Linked DNA regions of Homo sapiens. The protein of the gene in region 1 interacts with the protein of each later gene in a biochemical or structural test. Each region holds a gene or a part of one and is shown on either strand. Other genes may lie near its edges.

Evidence for each region. The genes of interacting proteins can lie anywhere in the genome.
Region 2: the proteins of SLC17A1 (region 1) and PDZD2 interact in a test that uses a peptide from one of them, tested with the Homo sapiens proteins (one large-scale study listed by IntAct).

The regions. Positions count from the first base shown.
Region 1 is NC_000006.12:25,824,743-25,829,864, forward strand, and holds part of SLC17A1 (sodium-dependent phosphate transport protein 1), read right to left. Parts: intron 1,892-5,122; coding exon 1,719-1,891; intron 1-1,718. UniProt on the Homo sapiens protein: Important for the resorption of phosphate by the kidney. May be involved in actively transporting phosphate into cells via Na(+) cotransport in the renal brush border membrane. Plays a role in urate transport in the kidney.
Region 2 is NC_000005.10:31,644,491-31,649,612, forward strand, and holds part of PDZD2 (PDZ domain-containing protein 2), read left to right. Parts: intron 1-5,122.

The DNA.
Region 1 (5,122 bases):
CAGTTAAACCCAGAGAAGGCAAAATGTGAATGAAAAAAAAATTAACAAAGAACAGATTTAACAAATAGAAAACAGTTACCAAGTATGTATTTTTCTATTCTTCCTTTCAGTTCTCACAGTTTTTGCCCCCTATATTTTGCTGCTCTGTTGTTAGGGATACACATGTTTAGAATCATTTGTTTTTGGATAATTCACTCTTTTTATCATTGGGTAATGCCCTCTTTATCTCTGGTTATCTTCATTGCTATAAACTCTGCTTTGTCTAAAATTAATATAGCTACTTCAGTTTTCTTTTGATTTGTGTTTTCATGGTTGCATAGTTTACATCTTTCTTCATCCCTTTACTTCTAACTTATCTGAGTCTTTATATTTTAACAGGATTTCTTGTAGATAGAATATTTGAGGATCTTTATTTGTTATCAATTCTAACAATTTCTGTCTTTTAACTGGTGTGTTTAGAACATTCACATTTAAAGTGATTATCAATATAGTTGGATTAAAATCTACCATCTTTTAACTTTTCTTTTGTGGTAAGCCTGCTGGCAGTAAATTCGTATATATGAAGGGAAAATTGAAGGACAAAAATTGAAAGACAATAAAGGCTTTCTCAAGTTATAGCTACAGCTTGAAATTTTACAGTCTTTCAGTTTTGTCAATAATTTTATTGAATACAGAATTCTAGGTTGGCAGGGGTTTTCTTTCTTTCAACACCTTAAAAAGTTCACTTTTCTCTCCTTATTTGCATGGTTTCTGATAAGAAGTCTGCTGTAATTCTTATATTTGTTCCTCTGTAGGTATTTTCTTCCTCTGGTTTTATTGAAATGTTCTTTTTGTCTTGGTTTTCTGCAATTTAAATATGGTATGCCTAGGTGGCTTTTCTTTGTTTTTGTTTTTGCTATTTATCTTGTTTGGTGTTCTCTGAGCTTCTTGGATCTGTGGTTTGATGTTTGTCATTAATTATGGAAAGTTCTCAGCCAATTTTTGAAAAAAATATTTCTTGTTTCCTATTCTCTCTGGCATTCTGGTCATGCACATGTTACACCATTTGATACTGTCTACAATTTGGGAAAGATCTGTTAATTTTTTAAAATTCTCTTTCTCTTTGCATTTCAACTTTGGGAGTTTCTATTGACCCATATTCATGTTCACTAATTATTTCCTCAGTGGTGTGGAGTCTACTGATGAGCCCCTCAAAAGCATTCTTTGTTATAATTTCCTTGATTTCTAGTATTGCTTTTTCATTCTTTTTATAGTTTCCATCTCTTTACTGACATTACCTATCTTGTTTTTATTTTTTGCTGCATCTACATCTTCTGGTAGATAACAACTGATTATCTTCCAGAGATGAAATTAATGAAACATTTAAATATCCTGCAAGTCAAAAACTTTAAAAATGTAATGTGTCTTCACCTTCCACTCCTAATTTAAAATGCTTTCCCTTTTTTTCCTCTTGTCCAAATTTCTTGATTGTAAAGAAGCCCTAACTCTTGGGTTTTATTCTCTCTCACATAGAAGGATTTACACAACAAGCCCTTCAGAAATACTGAGGCATACTTTAATCATGGGACATTTTATTTAGGTCACTCCTGGCAAGGTAGATGAAGACTTGAGCTTCTTTTTCAAATATAGTATCATATCAGTACAATTCCATATCTACACAAATTAGTTAGCAAGACAGGCTTTTAAACATTTGACTGTGGGGAAAATTATTGATGTACCTTTATATTATCCAGGAGCTTCTTTGTGGAGGTGTTGGGCAAACCATGTGGATCTGTGCTATTCACCATGACTACCATTGTGAGGTTCAGGCACGCACGCTGTGCTGTTATTATAACATTACAACAGTGCACAAGGAAAGACAATCCATAGCGAAAGGAACAGAAACCTGGAACTACAAAGTAAAACAGAAAGTCGCAATTGCTGACAGAGCTGAGATAAAAACATACTTTAACTATAGGAGGGACATTCAGAAATTTGGAGCCCTAGATATTAATTTAAAATTTTATTGTACTTAATGACCTTTGATAATTATTATATAATAAGAAGATGTGAGACTGATATAATAATACCATATTCTCCTTAAAATTGTATTTCCAGCTAGAAGTTCCAAGAAAATCAAGCCAATCTTTCAAGTTCTTTGGCTCAAGTCTATTTTTTAAAAGACCCTTTATAAATACCCTGTGTTACTCTTGGACATAAGTCCCCCTAATTACAACAAAGACATTTTCTGTCAAGAAAACTATTCCTTTTCCAACATTTAAAAAATACTCTGGTTGAAAGACTTATATATGCCCAATGCAGAGAAAAAAATGGCATTTTAAAAAAATGTAATTACTTATTGATATAAGCTAGAGTAATCAGTTGGTGTACAGCCAAACAAGTTCATTGATGGAAGAAAGTAGGGAGTCCAGAAACAGATACACATATATGGTTAACTTTTTAAAAATAAATGTACTAATGCAATCCATTGGAGGAAAGTAAAGTGTTTTTCAACAAATGGCATTTTTTTCAAGAGAAATACAGGTATATGTCTACAAAACAACACATACAGAAATGTTTATAGTAGATTTATTCAAAATAGCAGAATGTTTGGAAAGAATGGACATATCATGGTATGTTAATACAATGCATATTACTCAGAAATAAAAGGAAAGAACTACTTATACACAACAATTTGGATAAATCTGGATGAATTTCAACAAAAACATGTTCAGTTAAAGAAGCTAGATACCAGACAGTATATACTATAGGAATCTAGTTTTATGAAGTTCAAAAACAGGCAAAGTTAATCTATATGGCCCCCTCCATCTCCAAAATCAGCAATGGGAACCTACTTTATGTTGAATCCCTCTCACACTTTGAATCTAGCTACTCTGCCTCTGACCTGTACAACCAGATTTAAAGGGCTCATGTGATTAGATCTCTCCTAACTGCATAATTTCGCTATTTAAGATTAACTGATTTGGGACCATAATACATCTGCAAAACCCCTTGAAGCAGCACCTAGCTTAATGTTTGCTTAAATAACTGGGAGAAAGTGTGTATACACCAGGGGCTGGGAATCTTGAGAGAAAACTTAGAATTCTGCCTACTACAGTCCACCATCTGGCCCTTAAAGACTCATGTTCATTTCACGTGCAAAACATATTCACCCATTTCAAGCTTCCCAAATTCTTCATCTTATTACATTATCAGCTCAAGTTCAAAACCTCATCAAAATCTCATAGCACAAAGTCCAAAATCTCATCATCTAAATCAGGTGTGGAAGAGGGGCCTATGATTAATCCCTCCTAGGGCACAATTTCTATCTGTGGGCTTGTGAAACTAAAGAGACAAGTTATATGCCCCTAACACTTTTACCACGTAATGGTGGAACAGGTGTAGGATAAAGCTATAGACATTCCAGTTCCAAGGTGGGAAAAATAGAGGAGAAAAGGAGTCATCGATCCATAAAGGTTCTGAAGTTCAGCCAGGCCAATGTTGGATTTTTCATAAGGTCTGGAGATAATTCTTGTGGCTCTTGGCTCCACCCTCTGGGCTTTGGGCTGTATCCTCTGTGCTCATTGTTCCACCCAAGAATAAAACAGGGGCCAGGGAGCTTGGGTGCCATCTTGGAATTCTGTCTACTGCACATTCATAGTTAACTAAGAATTTTTTATTGCAAATAAATATTAATATCATAAATAAATAGATTTTTTATATCTATTGAGATAATCATACTGTTTTCCTCTTTCAATTAATTTGTGTGGAGTGACATGTATACATTTTCTAACATTAAGTTACTCTTTTATTTTAAGAATAAACCTGACTTAGTGTTGGTGGTTGCTTTTTTAATGTTTTTATAAATTCTTAGATTTGTTTTGTTCTGTTAATATTTTATTTAGGATTTGGTGTCTTTATAATTTTCATAAGACTATTTTGCTTTATATATTGGAAGCTATTTTATTAGATAATAAATATTTTACATCATCTTACCGAATTGAATTTTATATCATTTTGCAACATTCTTATAGAATCGTTTGAACTAGCAAAAGACTGTAAACAAATTAGATGTTTATAAATCAGTGACCATTTAAATAAATTATAATATATCCATCCATACCAAAGTCATTTGCAGCTATAAAAATGCTAAGGAAAATCTCTGCCAAAAATTGTGGAATACTCTTTAGATAAACTGTTAAATGAAAAAAAGCATTAGTACCCAACAAATAGTTGGCTAGTTTTCTGGCCAACTGAGCTTCCGTTGTTAAAAGATAAGAATATTAGATAAAATATGCTTAAAATAAACCATTTTTTTAAAAGCATGGGTGATCTAAGAGGAAAGATGAAATATTCAGGCCAAGGGCTTAGTGAAGATGGGGGCCTCAAAACATAAGTTGGGCCTTGAAGTCAGATGTTTCACTGTGGACTTTTGATCTTGGGATTTTTGGCCTTCCATGATATGGGGACAACAGGAATCAAATACCAAGGTCCTAGCGATGCGATAGTGTATAGTAGGAGACCCTCTCCTAAAATGCTTGGATGTCAAAGATTTACATGGTTCAATGGAGGATGAACACATTGCCCCCTTATCTTGTCAGTGGACTGCCAAGAAATTTTGTGCCATATGAACTTAAGAGCTGAATAGAAGGGGGTAAAAGAATACCCCTGAGAAATTTAATCATCAGCCAGCCCTTCCTTTGATTTGCTGCCTAAACTCAGTATCATAGGGAAGTGAATGGATCTAGAAAGCTATCAGAAACTTTGTAAACACACCTGCAGGAGTCTCTACATGGTAAAAGGGAAGTCATTGTCACCATGTCAGAGAAGGGCTCATTGTCTTAGTCATTTAGGGGTATGCTTTTGAGTTTTACTCATTTCTCTCCTCCACATTGCTCCAGGAAGTCCATGAATTATGTCTAAACAAGTTTTAAGTTAAAAAGAAGACCACAGGGGGAATTCTAAAGTGTTTGGGATTGAGTAATAAGAATACCGCATATCAAACTCATGGACAGAGTAAAATGTGCATCTGTAAATATATTTATCAAAAAAGAAAGAATTTAAACACTTGGAAACTGAGCAAAGGAACAAACCCAAAAAGTCTAAAAGGAATTAAATGCATAAGGGCAGAAATGAATAATAT
Region 2 (5,122 bases), on another chromosome or scaffold:
AGGCCTTTTGTGGTCTGATAAGGCGGCTGAGCCGAGAGATGGTTTGTTAAGACACTAAGCATGCGGAGAAGACACATTTGTCTTTTAAGCCTCTCCAGCTCCAGGAAGAGGCCTACCCCCGGCCGTGGCTTCTCTCCAATGCCAGTAGTGTGTTCACCCCACACTCTTGATGGGGCCAGCAAACAGTCTCCATTCTGAAAGTTCTGGCTGCTCCATGCATGCATTCCCTACCAGAATGCGTTCTGAGTGAATAATGAGTGGTCTATGAACTTCCAGAAAATCAGAAACTTAAGATTCTCAACTCTCTTTATGAAGCCATTGAATGAAACCAGATAGCATTGAACACCTGGTTGACAAAGTTATTCTTGGATTATATGTTTTTATATACAGTGTTTCTGGGGCTCATCAAGCCCTCTAGGTAGGAGGCCTGAAGAGGTTTTGGAGAAGCAGCATTGGGGGAACCGACTTCACAGCACAGAGGATTAATTTTGCACACACAATTGTTGCGAGCTCTGAATGAAATAATAGCAAGGAGATGGGGGAAGTTTTGTTGTCTTTTAAGTCTAAGAAGCAGCCTGAAATGCCTAGATATCCACAGGAGGATTTAAAAAATCACAAATTCTTAAGGATCTGCAAGTCCTTGAAAGGGCATTATCCAATCTCTTGCCTTCAGGGAGGAATAAACTTAGCTCATTCCAGTTAAGGATCTATGGTTTTAACAGCTTCCTGAGGAAGGGGCGTCCATGGCATATTTGGCCCTTAACACAGTGATGCCCCAGACTGGTTCTTTGAGGTGTTTTAGCAGGAGTCGAAATGGATTTCAGAGGGGTTACTCTTGGTCTCTTTTTTTTTTTTTTTTTTTTTGAGACGGAGTCTTGCTCTGTCGCCCTGCCTGGAGTGCAGTGGCGCGATCTTGGCTCACTGCAACCTCTGCCTCCCAGGTTCAAGTGATTCTCCTCCCTCAGCCTCCTGAGTAGCTGGGACTACAGGTGCGTGCCACCACACCCAGCTAATTTTTGTATTTTTAGTAGAGACGTGGTTTCACCATGTTGGCCAGGATGGTCTTGATCTCTTGATCTTGTGATCCGCCTGCCTTGGCCTCCCGAGGTGCTGAGATTACAGGCGTGAGCCGCTGTGCCCGGCTGGTCTCATTTTTACCAACACTTGGACACCTCTAGTACTTGGCTTTACAAGCCCTAGACTTTATCATCCAAGTTAACACAACAGACCCTGTTGTCCTGGCCTCAGGACAGCCATCATCCTGCTTGGCTAAAAATAAAGGCAGCACTCATATAGTGTAGAATTAGTATTCCTACCGTGAGCAGGGGCACGCTTTGTGCTGTGGCTACCCCAAAGTCAATTCCCTGGCTGGGACCTGCCAGCTCAGGCAGTGGGAGTTGTACTGGGAGGAGGGTGGGAGAGATGGTAAGTTTGGATCTCAGTGTACTCAGTAGGGGGAAGGGGGTGGGGAACTGGGCTGCCTTACATGGGAGGCCTCCGGGCATCCCCAGGCAGCTGGTGGGAGGAGAGAGGGTGTCAGGGAGCTTTGCACTGCGGGGGGGCCTTCTCACTACTGTCACTCCTAGGGAGATCTCAGGATACCTAGGCGGAAGAAAATAAACACCAACTCTTTTGTCCCTTTCACCAAAGGCCAGCATGTTTCCGATGCCTGTCTAAGGTGAACCTGGCTTGTCCTGTTTACACGTCCTGGGATGTTACTGTAATTCCAGTATTCCAGAAGACTCTGTTTCTGGAGACTGGAGAGGCAAGTGTATTTTGGGGTAGCCATAATATCTTGGGTTGGTGGGTACAAGTTTGAACACCTAGTAATGCCCCTTACCCCTGAGGAATTCCAGGGACTGAGCCACCACAAATGTCTTCAGGAACCTGACCCCTCCACGTCATGAACACTAAGTAGCTCCTGACACTGCTTATGTTTGCTTGCAGGTGATCAAATGGAATCATACACTCTCTCCAAGAGCACGAAGGTTTCTTTTTCTTTTTCTGTTTAATAAAGCAAGATGTCAATAAACTCTACATTTTTGTGTGTTGGCCAATGGACACTTATAAAATGTCTGATTTCAGCTGTGTTTTCAGTTGAACACCCCCCACCACCCGCCCAACACCCTCTTTCTGGCACAGTGTGTTTTATGGAGATTTGGGTAAAACTAGATTGTGCTATATGGGTCTCCTGATGAAGAGAATTCACTTCCAAGGCTAAAGCAGCCATGCAAATATTATTACAAAACCACTCAGCATACAAAATTGGCATAGCTTTCCTCCACAGTTTGCCACTGCCCACTCTCCACTCCTACCCCGCCCTGGCCACCTTAATTCCCAGTATCATTAGGCCGAAAGAAGGGACAGCTGTCTCCAGAAAATGTGCTCCGAGTGTCCCCATCAGCGTGGATTCCCAAGAGAGAGCAGGCAGTGAGATGGCACAAGGAGAGGAAGGTACTGGAAAGAATTGCATTAACTCCTCTCTGGACTTACTGCTCATCTTTAAAAACCTAAGCAGATGTCAGGCTTATTGATTTCTTTATTGGTGGCAGCTGTGGAGCTGCAGTCCACTATTTTTGGCACCTGGGAGATGCACACGGCCCCTGAGCACACTTCCCGCCTTCTGATCCCTCACCTGCTCAGCTTCCCAGGCTCCGTCTTTATCTTGAGGATCTCTGAAGACTGCCTCTTCCCCTGTACTCTTCAGGATCCAGTACAATGCCTAGTACATGGGTAAAAATTAAAATTATTTGAATGTTCACTATTTGGCAGGCACTGTTCTAGACACTTGCCACATACAGCTCATTCAGTTCTCATAATCTGATGAGGTACATACTGTTATTACCCCATATTCATTTCCTGGGGCTGCCGTCAGAAATTAGCACAAACTTGTTGTCTTAAAACAACTGAAATTTATCCTCTCACAGTATCCTCTTCACAGGTCCGAAGTCTGAAATCAAGGTGTTGACAGGGCCGTGCTCCTTCTGGAAGCTCTAGGGGAGAATCCTTCCCTGCCTCTTGCAGCTTCTGGGAGCTGTGGACATTCCTTGCACTGCTTCAGCCCAGTCTATGCCTTTGTCTTCACGTTGCTTTGTCTGTGTGTCTGTGTCTTCTCTCTTGTCTGCATGTCTCTACTTTGTGTGTCTCATTTATAAGGACATTTGTCATTGGAGTTAGGGCTACCCAAATAATTCAGGATGATTCCAACTTGAGATTTTTAATTTAATTACATCTGCAGAGACACTTTTGCCAAATGAGGACACATTTGCAGGTTTTGGGATGTGGGTATATCTTTTGGGGAGCTACTATTCAACACAGTACAACCCCTTTTGTGATGGAAAAATGGTGATACATTGTGGTTACGGAATTCTCTGAGGTTGCACAGCCAGGAGTTGGTAGAATTGGAATTTACACACAGCAGCCTGGCTCTAGAGCTTGCATATGGACCACTACTCTCTTTTGCCTTTTAGTAAATGTGCTCCGTGATTGTTCACGGTATGAATGGAGGGCAGCATGGCTGGGGAAATAGATGGATGAAAAGATGCTGGTAACAGTAGTTGGCCAACATTCTCCTTCTCAATGTACTGAAAATAGTAACAACAACTGATATTCATTGTTTTATGCTCTTGACCTGGGACTCGTCCTTGGATCCTCTTTTTTGGCTATTCTAGGGAGAGCTCAACTATCTCGAGGCATTGCCTACCATTTATGCACTTCTGCCTTCCAAATTTATGTCCATAGCCTTGATTTCTCTGCTGTGTTCCAGACTCATGTGCCCCACTGCCCCCTTACCATTCCAGTGGGGGCGTTATAGGGATCTCTAACCTAACACAACAAAATGCAATCCTTGATATGTCTCTTTCAAGCTAGTTCTTTCCTTCTCCTCCTCCCGTCTCAGTAAATGGCACCACCATCCACCCAAAGGCTCATTCCCAAAACTAGAAACCACTCTTCATTCTCTTTTCCCGACACTCTGTATCCAAATCCAGGAATAAGTCCTGTTGGCCCCACCTCCAGCCTCCACCTTGTTCTCCCGCCTCCACAGCAGCCGCCCTTGTTAAAATCACTGCCATCTCACCCCTGGACCCATGCTGCAGTCATCTTCTAACCGGGCCACCTGAGGACACCCTTGACCCCAGTCCTTTTCCTCCGAGCAGCCAGAGGGGTCTTTTATTTTTTTAAGACTTTTTTTTTTTTAATATAGCAATTTTAGGTTCACAGCCAAATTGAGAAGAAATTACAGAGATTTCCTGTATACCTCTTGCCCCTACACATGCAGAGCCTCCACTCTCATCAACATCCTTCACCACATAGTTCATTTGTTACAGTCGATGAACCTGTGTTGGAACATCGTTATCCCTCGAGTCCATAGTTTACCTTAGGGGTTCACTCTTACATTCTATGGGTTTGGATAAATGTATAATGTCATGGGTTTGGATAATGTGTAATGTCATGTATCCACCATTATATTATATGAGTAGTTTCACTGGCCTAAAAATCTTCTGTGCTCTGACTCCTATTCATCCCTCCTGCCCCCCAACCCAGAGGGGTTTTTTTGTTTGTTTTTTTAAGAGATGGGGTCTCACTGTGTCGTGCAGGCTGGTCTCAAACTCCTGGGCCCAAGCGGTCCACCCGCTTTGGCCTCCCAGAGTTCTGGGATTACAGACATGAGCCACTGTGCCCGGCCAGAGGGGTCGTTTAAAAACACAAGTCGTATCACTCCCTGGCTTAAAACTGGACATTTCTCGTTGCCATTTCAGTGTGATTCAGGCTCCTTGCCCCAGTCCACCTCTCCTATGACTCCTTCTCTTAGCACTCATTGCCCTCACTCCATGCCTGACATGCTGTACTTCTTTCAGTTTTGGAACACACCAAGTTCCGTCCCATATCAGAGCTCTTTTTCTGCTTGGAAACATCTTCCCCCAGATCTTCACAAGAACATATGATCTAACAGGAAACAGGACCACCCCCAGGTACTCTATCACATGACTCCTGTTTGAAATAAAATATTTGATTTATTCATTTATTATCTGTCTTAGCTGTTGGATCATACGCTCCATTAAAGCAAAGAACTAGTTTGTGTATCTCACATGCTGAAAATAGTTCCTATTTCTGCCTTTCC